Regions from separate parts of the Homo sapiens genome. Here region 2 is linked to region 1. Evidence: fine-mapped expression QTL. A gene starts in region 1. The other region holds a variant in brackets. All regions are shown on one strand. Distances are from middle to middle.

What was found.
Region 2: its variant is fine-mapped to the expression of LRRC38 in adrenal gland (GTEx, PIP above 0.99).

What each region holds. Positions count from the first base shown.
Region 1 is chr1:13,511,075-13,516,440 of GRCh38, forward strand. It overlaps LRRC38 (leucine rich repeat containing 38), which reads right to left and starts at 2,929. Exons shown (of 2, transcript NM_001010847.2): 1 at 1,889-2,929. The coding sequence starts at 2,519. It overlaps LOC107984918 (a long non-coding RNA gene), which reads left to right and starts at 2,146. Exons shown (of 3, transcript XR_001737896.2): 1 at 2,146-2,267; 2 at 3,217-3,470; 3 at 5,096-5,190.
Region 2 is chr1:13,478,731-13,484,096 of GRCh38, forward strand. All of the region lies in intron 1 of LRRC38 (leucine rich repeat containing 38), which reads right to left. Among named protein-coding and RNA genes, the nearest start is that of LRRC38, 33 kb to the right of the region's middle. The variant C/G (reference allele first, on the strand shown) is at 2,887.

The DNA of each region.
Region 1 (5,366 bases):
GGGCTCTGGACATGGCTCCTTGCTCTGAACCTGTCCATCCTTCCTCCCGTCTTTCCTATCTGAGTCCAGTTTCTTCCCCACATCACAGACAGCAGGAGGAGGAACATTTCACTTCCATTGCTCGTTACTTTCACTCACATCACCTTGTTTGGATCTCGACAACCACTGGGTGGGATGGACTATGCAGCATTACCCATGTCTTGATTTCACTCAAGGGAAAGGTGAAGCTTAAAAAACTGGAGTGACCCACCCAGAGTCCCCCAGATTTTAGGCCAGGACTTAAATCCATGTCTTCAGATTCCAAATCCAGGGCTCTTTGGAGATCTCAGAGGTCAACGCAAGAATTCTAGAGATGAGGAAACTGAGGCCCAAATGGGACAAGTGGCCTGTTCAAGGTCACAGTCACCATGGCAGAACTGAGACAAACCCACAGCTCCTGACTTCATAAAACCTTGCCTTCACCTGGAAGACAACTGGAGCCAATAAACCAACCCAACCAACAACAGGGGTGAATGGTGCCAACCCCACTGAAAAGGAAAGGCAGAAGCAAGCAGAACCGAGGTGTACCCCATCCCACCATGAGCTTTTCATCCGGTCACTCCTGTCTCCAGGACCGAGTCTACTGGTGGGCAGGGTCTGGGAAACCAGACAAGTGGATGAGGACAAAGTTTAAAGGTGGGGACTCTGCACCCTGCAGGCCAGATCGTTTTAGGAATTTCAGCCAGCCTGGGCTGAAAGTGATGGCTCAGGGGCCTGCATTTGCTGAAGAGTGAGCACCCCGAAGCATGGGGTGTGTTTGATGACAGTTGGGAATGAAGATATGAATGCAGGAGTTCAGCACACAGATGAACAGCATCCTTGATTTCTCCGTAAATGGAAAAAAAAATATTCTGAAGCTAAATCTGCATGTATGTCACCTTTGATGATGTGCGCCTTGCAGCTGTGGTCCCAATTCTGCTGAAATCTTGGGAGCAAGGCAGGAGGCAGAGTTCAGCTCTGAGAGGTCACTGCGGGCACTGGTGCTCACAGGGTCACAAGTGGGAGGCTGGAATCCACTTGGGGGAAGGACACCCACCTGCCACCTGCCTCCTCACTCTGGGTGCTCATCCCTGTGGATGCTGGGGTCCCCTCCTTCTCAGCTCCACCCGTGCTCCCTTCCTGCGGGCCTTAATGGAGCCCCTTAACTCCCTCCGCCCTGGTGTTCCCATCTGCCAAGTGAGTTTTTATGCCCACGCCGCCATTGGAAGCGTGCACCAGGAAAGCAAAGGGGGCACCAGCCCTCTACATTTTGGTTCAGCTTTTTCACATCTGGCTGAAAAGCCACAGAGAACTACAAATCATTACTGCATCATTGGCTCTTAATGGGCTGCCATTATTCCACATCAGAAATCTTCCTCACCCATATTAGACAGAAGAGCAAACTGGAGCTGAGAAGCTGAGAGGCCAGGTTAGGCTCGGGAAGCTGCTGGAGAGCCCTTGGAACTGGCTGACTCCCCGTGCACGGTACTGAGAATACGGCCGTTTCCCATAGAGTAGGCTGCATTCCGCTTACCAGGGACGCATAAGTAATCCACACCCGCCAGTCCTAGGACCCAAAGCCCAGGGAGATGATCCTGGGCATCCCGAGAAGGGGAAGGTCCCTAACTTGGTAAAGTGAGTTACTGGAGAAACAGGGGAAGAAGTACAGCCTCAGGGTTCAGAAACTCCAAAGAATTCCAGATGCGTCCCTCTCCACCCACTTCCCCAGCAGAGACCCAGGAAAAGTTCAGGATCCCCCAAGCCTCCTCTTCCAAACTCAACCCACGGCTCCTCCCACCCAGACTGGGGTCTGGGGTGGCCTCTCCCTGCCCCCCTCCCTCCCTCCCCCAGCCTAGCCGGCTCGGCTCACCTTTGGGCAGTTTGGATGCGTTCTCCTGGATCCAGGAGAAGAGGTGGGCGAAGTCACAGTCGCACAGCCAGGGGTTCCCGTCCAGACGCAGGGAGCGCAGCGCGGGCAGCGCGGCCAGGGCGGCCACGCTGAGGCTGCGCAGGTTGTTGTCGTTGAGCTCCAGCACCTGCAGCGACTCCAGGGTCTCGAAGGCGTCCTCGTGCACGCCCACCAGGTTGTTGTTAGCCAGGCTAAGCTTCACCAGCCTCCCGGCCGAGCGGAAGGCGCCGGCGCCCAGCTGGGTCAAGTTGTTGTAGCTGAGGTCGAGGAACACGAGCTTGGCCGAGCCGCTGAACGTGCCCTCCTCCAGCGAGCGCAGCGAGTTGTTCCTGAAGTCCAGGTAGACCAGGTCGCCGTAGAAGATGAAGAAGTCCTCGGGGATCCGCTGGATGCGGTTGCCGGCCACCAGCAGCTTGCGCACGTCCAGGGGGAAAGGGTCTGGCACGCTGGGCAGCCCGCGGTCGCGGCAGTCCACGGTGTGCGGGTCGGTGCAGGCGCAGCCCGCGGGGCACGCGTGCCCGGGCGCGAGCAGCAGCAGAAGGCTGCAGAGCCCGAGCGCCGCGGCGGCGCAGGCTGGGGCTCGGGGGCGCATGGCCGGGGGGCCCGCGCCGGCCGCGGCGAGAAGGAAGCGGCTCTCGGAGCGAGCCCTGGCGCGGGACGGCGCGGTGAGGCACTGGCTGCCGGGCGCGGGGAGCCAGAGGGCGGCCCGGGCGGGGAGGGCGTGCGCCCGGGCGTGCGGGGGCGATGGAGCGCGGCGCGGACGGACTGGGGAGCCGGGACAGCAGGGATGGAGAGGGGAGGGGCGGGGAGGGAGGGGCGAGGGACTCACCAAAGGGTTTACCCGGACAGGAAATTAACCCGCTAGAAAAATCTCTTGGGAGAGGCGGGAGCGGCAGGGGTGGCCGAGTGGCCGTCGCCAAAACGCGGCCCCACCCTGGCAGCTGATTTCCGAGATCTGGCAGTAAGACGCCGCGCGCACCGGGCGGGCTGCACTCGACGTCTAAGTTCAGCTACCAAGCCCAGGAGCGGTTTCCCTAAGGCGTGTCCCGGGCGTGCGCCCTGCCCCCTCGCGCCCGCCTGGTGCCAAAGCACGCTCCCTGCACGCCACCCTATGTCGCCAAAGGGAGTGGGACCTGGGTCACTCTGACTCTGCTCCGGGGGCAATCCCTGCAGGTTCTCGGGTGCCGCGCCAGGGTCTGCTGGTCTGAATTTGGGCGGGGTTCCAAGGGGAGAGAGTGAGTGACTGGTCTTCCCTCTTCCCTCCCCCACCTGCACTTGAACCATCTTAGGCTGGAGGGTGAGCGAGGCAAGTGGCTGCCAGGGCCCCCGCTGTGGCCTGCAGGGCCAGTCAGCACTTTCCATGCCGGCCCCGAACTTCTGGATGGAACTGGCATCCATGCAAGGATCAGCTGCTGGTCTGAGAGGTCCAGCTGCTGAGGCTCTGAGGCCTGGAGTCACCAGGCCTGGCTTCCAAGCTGTGTGGCCTCAGACCAGTACCTCTGCCTCTGTGGACCTGGTAGCTCCATTTGTGAAATGGAAAAAGGTAATATATATCTCATCAGCTTTGGGGGAGGACCAAGAAGTCAAGAACAAAGTTCAAAAATTATCTTTTCCTCTCTCCCCCTCAAAACCCCACCTTGGATAGCCTAGGGAGGCAGTCAGGAACGTGCCAAGGCTGAGATGAAAGGACAGTGAGGAAATGCTGATGTCAGCCTCTGACACTGGCAGGAAAATTCCCTCTTCACCACCCCGATGCCAAACTCCTTTCTTTCTGTCCCACCTCATTCTAGAAACTTCTATATGGGGAGGGGTCCCCACAGAGCTACCAAGAGATTGTCCCGCTGTTGGCTATTTTGGTCCAAATGCCCTAGAATTGACAGACTCCCACTAGACCAAAATAACCCAGGGAACAGCTGTTGGGCAGCAGGCTCCCAGAGACCCTTCCCTGGCCCCTGGCCATGCTGGGGATTGGTGGAGCCTCGGATTCTGAAGCCATAAAGCTAAGCCCTCGGCCTTCTTCCAAAGGTACAGGCCGACTTGATGCCTCTGAGCCATGGGATGAAAAAACTGATCCCCTGGGATGGAGCCAAGGGCTCAACAGATGAGCATATTTGCAGGAGCCCTGGGGAAGAGGCGGGGGAGACCCAGGGGGAAGCTTTGAGGCACCTGGAGTCCTGCAGCTTTTCCCCTACTTACATTCCAGGCCACTAAGCCAGACCTCCCTCAGTTCTCCGTCTCTGTCTCCACTCTCCCAGGGTGCCCAATTTGCCATTGCCATCCCCAACTTCAAGGGCTCAGCTTCCCCACCCCAGTCTCATGCTCTTGAAGAGGCAGGTGTCGGGAGGAGTGGTCTGAATGCTCCCAGAGTGGATGAAAATGCTTCTGCCTACATAAATGATGTATAAATTATTGAAGAGTCACACAAAGTGCAGGCAGGTGGCAGAATAAACACATCTCCCACCCTTGCAACTCTGCAAAAGCAGCCTGAACCGAACTGTTGCACTCTGCCAATCTCAGGCTTGGTTCTGCCTGCTCCCTCCTGTACTGAGGGGAACCTATTACTGGTTTGAGCCCTTAGCATCATGGTTTCATGACACCCGCATTTGGTTGGGCTGCCATCTTGCACGTGCATGCCCGCGTGTCTGTATGTCTGGGTGTGTACACAAGCCCTCCCTGCCAAGTGGTCTGGTTGGCTGGAGCACTGACCTATATGAATCAAGACCCTGGGTCTGGTCCTGGCCCCACCACTAGCCACAGAATCTTTCACAAGCCACTTGATCTCTCTGGGGACTTCTTAGCCTGGGTCCCCAGATACTATGAAGAGGAGGTCTTTTCAAAATTTAAAAAAGTCTGGTGAAAATTAGGCCTTTATCTTTGAGGAGGTCTCCCGGATTAAATACTGCAATTCTTGCCAGTGAACTTAATGGTAGCACTAGTCCTTTTGTGCAGAACCGGCATTCATAGGTGACTTTAAGAAAAACAGAGATGAATTTCTACTGAATAAATGCAAGTATTTAGTTGACAAGGACTTGCAAAACAGGGGAATGCATGGTACTAAAATATTAAGAGGGGCTCTTGGTAACAAACCTATTGAGAAATACCACTCCTAGCCTTGATTTCCTCATCCTGAAACTAATGAAAAAATACCTTTCTTCTTCCTTTCCACAGACAACGTGAGGGCCGCATGGGGAAGTATTTGTATGGGAACATGATTTGAAAGGTCTTTGGAGAAATATTGCCAATAAAAGTGGCCACAAATCTTGCGATGGCAGGAACAATTTGTTTCCTCGAGTGTCCCCCAAAGTTCCTTGGATCCAAATGTAAGCATTCTTTTCATTAATATCAGCAGAACTAGACATGGTTGGGCTTTGTAGGGAGCAGGGAGGTATCTCAGATTCCAGAGCTCCCATCCCTTGGGGGAAATACAAGCTTTGCCACC
Region 2 (5,366 bases), 32 kb before region 1:
GCTAATTACACAGCAACCCTGCAACCACCCTGGGGGGGTTTGTGTGTCTTTTTTTCTCCATCTCAGAAACAGGAGATGGAGGAATAGTATCTGAGCATCCTCCTTCCTTCTGTCCTGCCCCATCTTTTATGTAGTCTACAGCCAACCCATCGATGCTTCTGTCCCATGGGAACCATTGCCTAGCAACCAGACTCTGCATTCCCTCCTCTCCCAGAATCAGTGTCTGCTTTATATACCCAAGGAATTAGCTGGACCAGAGCTCTGCAGGCCTCCCCAATTTATACTTGATTACTGTTTTTGACTGTTTCTTTTTCTTAAAGAGGCCAAACTTCTGAGAATTTTAAATGCATTTGAATAAAACAGGAGAGCTTTATCTTTTAAAAAATAAAAATAAAAATAGGAGCACTTTAAAACAAAGTTATACTGGGCTTTTTTTTTTGCAGACACTCATGTCTTCAATGAAAAAATGGAAAAACATCAATCAACCTGCCTCCTAACAGCCTACCCCGGCCAAAAACGTTATGAAAATAAGTAAGATGGACACCAACAGACTGTGTGAAGCACAGACAGTTTCTAAAGCCAGCAGATTATTTGCAGCCTCCAAACTAGTGACAGATCATTATTTAGCTGGAGAAATTTTCTAGAAATCCTCATCTTCAGGAAGCGGTATCAACCGGAAAACCACCACAACCCAACAACATAAGCCCACGGCACCTGCCGTTTAAATCCAACCTTTGCAAGCCACCACTTCCCAAGTCAGTTCTGATTTCCACAATGTTCTTTGTGCCTTGAGACTCATCTTGGCATTTTTACAAAGTGACAATTTTAGAAAATGTCATCTCACATTTCTCCGTGGCTAGAAGAAATGGGCTTGTTTGAAAAACGGTGCACACAAGCCCACCAGGGGCGGGGACTTTAGAACGGCAGTGCTTAGTGGGGCTTTCATGATAAGATCCACTGACTTGATGAGCTTTCATAGCTCACAAAGGGCAGAGAAAGAAGAAGAGTTGGACGAAGAGAGTCTGCCAGGCAGACAGGGCCCAGCACAAGGCTGAGGGTATTGCTACAAAAGCTGGCTACAAAGGCTGTGAAGCCAACAGCACAACTCTAGACTTGGCATAGGCAGACTCCAGGGTCCCCTCTTCTCTCCTGGTAGACCCTTGTTTAAACCAGGGTTTCTCAACTTGGCCATCACTGACATTTGGGACAGGAACATTTTTTTGACATAGGGGCCGTCCTGTGTCCTGTAGGATGTTCAGCAGCATCCCTGGCCTCCACCTACCAGATGCCAGCAACACCTCCCACCCAGTGTGACAATCAAAACTGTCTCCAGTCCGGGAGTGGTGGCTCATGCCTGTAATCCCAGCACTTTGGGAGGCCGAGGCGGGTGGATTACCTGAGGTCAGGAGCTCCAGACCAACCTCGCCAATATGGCGAAACCCCACCTGTACTAAAAGTACAAAAATTAGCTGGGCATGGTGGCGCATGCCTGTAATCCCAGCTACTTGGGAGGCTGAGGCAAGAGAATTGCTTGAACCCCGGAGGTAGAGGCTGCAGTGAGCCGAGACCACGCCATTGCACTCCAGCCTGGGTAATAAGAGCGAAACTCTGTCTAAAAAATAAACAAACTGTCTCCAGACATTGCTACGTGTCCCCTGGGTGGGGAGGACAAAGTCACCTCAGTTGAGGATCACTGCTTTAGAGTGAAATGCTCTACTAAGTATATAGCTATTATGTAGACTTTTAAATTTTTTTGTAAAGACAGGGTCTCGCTCTGTTGCCCAGTGATATGGTTTGGCTGTGTCCTCACCCAAATCTCACCTTGAATTGTAATAATCCCCAGCTGTTAAGGTGGAGATAATTGAATCACGGGGTTGGTAGGTTTCCCCCATACTGTTCTCCTGGTTGTGAATAAGTCTCACTACCATGATGTTTTTAGAAATGGGAGTTCACCTCTACATGCGCTCTTGCCTGCCACCGTGTAAGACGTGAGTTTGCTCCTCCTTCACCTTCCACCATGATTGTGAGGCCTCCCCAGCCATGTGGAACTGTGAGTCCATTAAACCTCTTTCCTTTATAAATTACCCAGTTTCAGGTATGTCTTTATTAGCAGCACGAGAACAGACTAATACACCCAGGCTGGTCTGGAACTGCTGTCCTCAAGCAATCCTCCCACCTCAGCTTCACAAAGCTCTGAGATTAAAGGCGTGAGCCACCAGGCCCAGCCATTAGGTGGCTATTATGGACTAAACATTTAGATCCCCAGAATGTATATGTGGAAGCCCTAGCCCCCAGTGTGATGGTATCTGGAGGTGAGGCCTCTGGGAGGCAGTTAGGGTTAGATGAGATTAGGTAACTAGGGTGTGGCTGTCCTGATGGGATTAGTGTTCTTCCTCCCCACCCCCTCCAACAAGATGGAGTCTCACTCTGGAGGGCAGTGGCGCGATCTCGACTCACCACAACCTCTGCTTCCTGGGTTCAAGCGATTCTCCTGCCTCAGCCTTCCAAGTAGCTGGGATTACAGGTGTGTACCACAATGTCCAGTTAATTTTTTTGTATTTTTAGTAGAGATCTACCTTGGCCTCCCAAAGTGCTGGGACTTCAGATGTGAGACACAGCATCTGGCCAGGGATTAGTGTTCTTATGTTTTTTTTATTTTTTTTTTTTTGTTCTTTTTTTGAGATGGAGTCTCGCTCTGTCGCCCAGGCTGGAGTGCACTGGCATGATCTCGGCTCACTGCAAGCTCTGCCTCCTGGGTTCACGCCATTCTCCTTCCTCAGCCTCCAGAGTAGCTGGGACTACAGGCACCCACCACCACGCCCGGCTAATTTTTTTTGTATTTTTTTAGTAGAGACGGGGTTTCACCGTGTTAGCCAGGATTGTCTC[C/G]ACCTCCTGACCTTGTGATCCGCCCGCCTTGGCCTCCCAAAGTACTGGGATTACAGGCATGAGTCACCGTGCCCGGCCAATGTGTTCTTAGAAGAAGAGACACCAGAGAGCTCTCCCAATCTGTCTCTGCCTCTCACTTTCTTTCCCTCTCTCTCCCTCTCTCCCTCTCTCCCTCTCTCTCTCTCTCTCTCTCTCTCTCTCTCTCTCTCTGCCATGTGAGGACCCAGAAAGAAGGCGACCATCTGCAAGCCAGGAAGAGAGCCCTCTCCAGAACCCAGCCCTGCTGGCACCCTGATCTCAGACTTCCACCCTCCAGAACTGTGAGGAAATAAATGCCTGCTTGTTAAGCCACCAATCTATGGTGTTTTCTTATGGCAGCCTGAGAAGACTAAGATAGTAACCTTCTAAGACAGGCCTATTTTTAGTCAATAAATAGACATTTAGTTATTAAATGGCTTCCTTTAATTCATGCATTAAGCAAAACAGGTGAGGCTTCATGCTACATGCCATGCAGGATACAAAAGGAAGGAAGGGAAGATGGAAGGAAGGCAGGGAGAGTGGGAGGAAGAGAGAGAGACAGAGAGAGGTGGCCCTGGCCTCTTGGAGCTTAGGTCTTACAGGAGAGGCATAGGGACACAGGCACAAAAGAGGACACTTAAAGGACAAAGTGCAAAGCCTGGCCAGGCACGGTGGCTCACACCTGTAACCCCAGCACTTTGGGAGGCTGAGGCGGGTGGATCGCCTGAATGCAGGAGTTCAAGACCACCCCAGGCAACATGGTGAAACCCTGTCTCTACTAAAAATAACAAAAAAACTAACCAGGTGTGGTGGCGCACGCCTCTACTCCCAGCTACTTGGGAGGCTGAGACAGGAAAATTTCTTGAGCCCCAGAGGCAAACGCTGCAGTGAGCCAAGATTACGCCACTGCAATCCAGCTTGCGCTACCGAATAAGACTCCATCTCGGAAAAAAAAAAAAAAAAGAAAGTGCAACGCCCCACAAGACAGGTCAAGGGCAAGCTCACAGAGGGGGCTTTGGGGGCTGGATCAGCAGGACAGTGGAAGGATGGGCTGGCATGCGGCACATGGAGGTGACCATGGGATCCCTGCAATGTTCCTACCTGACCTTGGAATGTTCTCCTTTTCCTGACCTATCCCGTCAGCTGTCTAAGTTAAGAATAGTGAAGGAAAGCCAATACTTCACAGCACCTGGTGTGTGCCTAGCACACTTCAAGCTTCACAAAACATACTAGCCTTGTTTATTCCTCAGGCCAACCTGATCAGAAGGCCACTCTAAGTATCCCCATCTTATAGCTGACCAAACTGAAGCACAGAGAGGGCAAGTGACTTGCCCGGGGCCATGTAGCAGGGAAATGCCAGAGCTGGGCCTGACCCCAGCTGGTCTGGCTCTGGAGCTTGGCCACTGCATCGTGCCTCCCACTCTCCCAGGCACGAGACCTAGGGCTGCACCAGCCTGGCCCAGCCCCTCCCAACAAGCTCCCTCGAGGCACAGTGTCTTTTTTTTTTAATTTTATTAATTTATTTATTTAATTTTGAGACAGAGTCTTGCTCTGTAGCCCAGGCTGGAGTGCAGTTGTGTGATCTCGGCTCACTGGAACCTCTGCCTCCCAGGCTCAAGCAATTCTCCTGCCTCAGCCTCCCGAGTAACTGGGATTACAGGCACATGCCACCACCCCCAGCTAATTTTTGTATTTTTAGTAGAGATGGGGTTTCACTTTGGCCAGGTTGGTCTCAAACTCCAGACCTCAGGTGATCCACCTGCCTCGGCCTCCCGAAGTGCTGGGATTACAGGCGTGAGCCACCACACCCAGCCCAGGCAGAGTGTCTTCTAAAGAGATGGCCTAGAACTCTCCAGCCACCCTCCTGATCCCACCATGAGCTGGAAAGGCTGGGAAGATGAAGCCACTGGGCATCCAGGGAGCACAGCTTCTGGACACCCTTGTCAGAAGGGCTCCCTGGATGCCCTGAAATACAGAATGAAGAGATGCTGCCCACGTTAGGGTTAGGACGGACCCCAGGCTGGGCCACTTCACCACCTGGTGCCTGTGTGACCCTGGGCCAGGCCCAGCCACCTTGAGTGCCTCCTCGAGATGATACTGTGAACATGAAATAAGGGAATATCTGAAAAGCTCTCACCACAGTACCTGGCCACGTACGTGCTCGAGAATCCCGTGGTTAGCATTGTTCAGATTTTTGAAGTTTCAGACTGAGCCTGCGTTTGACTCCAGATATATGAGAAGGGTGCCCATATTAGGGTGTTCCAGAGAAACAGAACCAACAGAGAGGAGAGGAGTGGGGAGGGGAGGAGCGGGGAGGGGAGGGGAGAGGAGAGGGAGCGAGTACGCATGTGTGTGTGGAGAGAGATTTATTACAACTACTTCTAGTCATTCCTCTGCTCAACATCCCTCCAGTGGCTCCCCATCTCTCTTAAAATGAAATCCACAGCCCGCATCACCCCTGC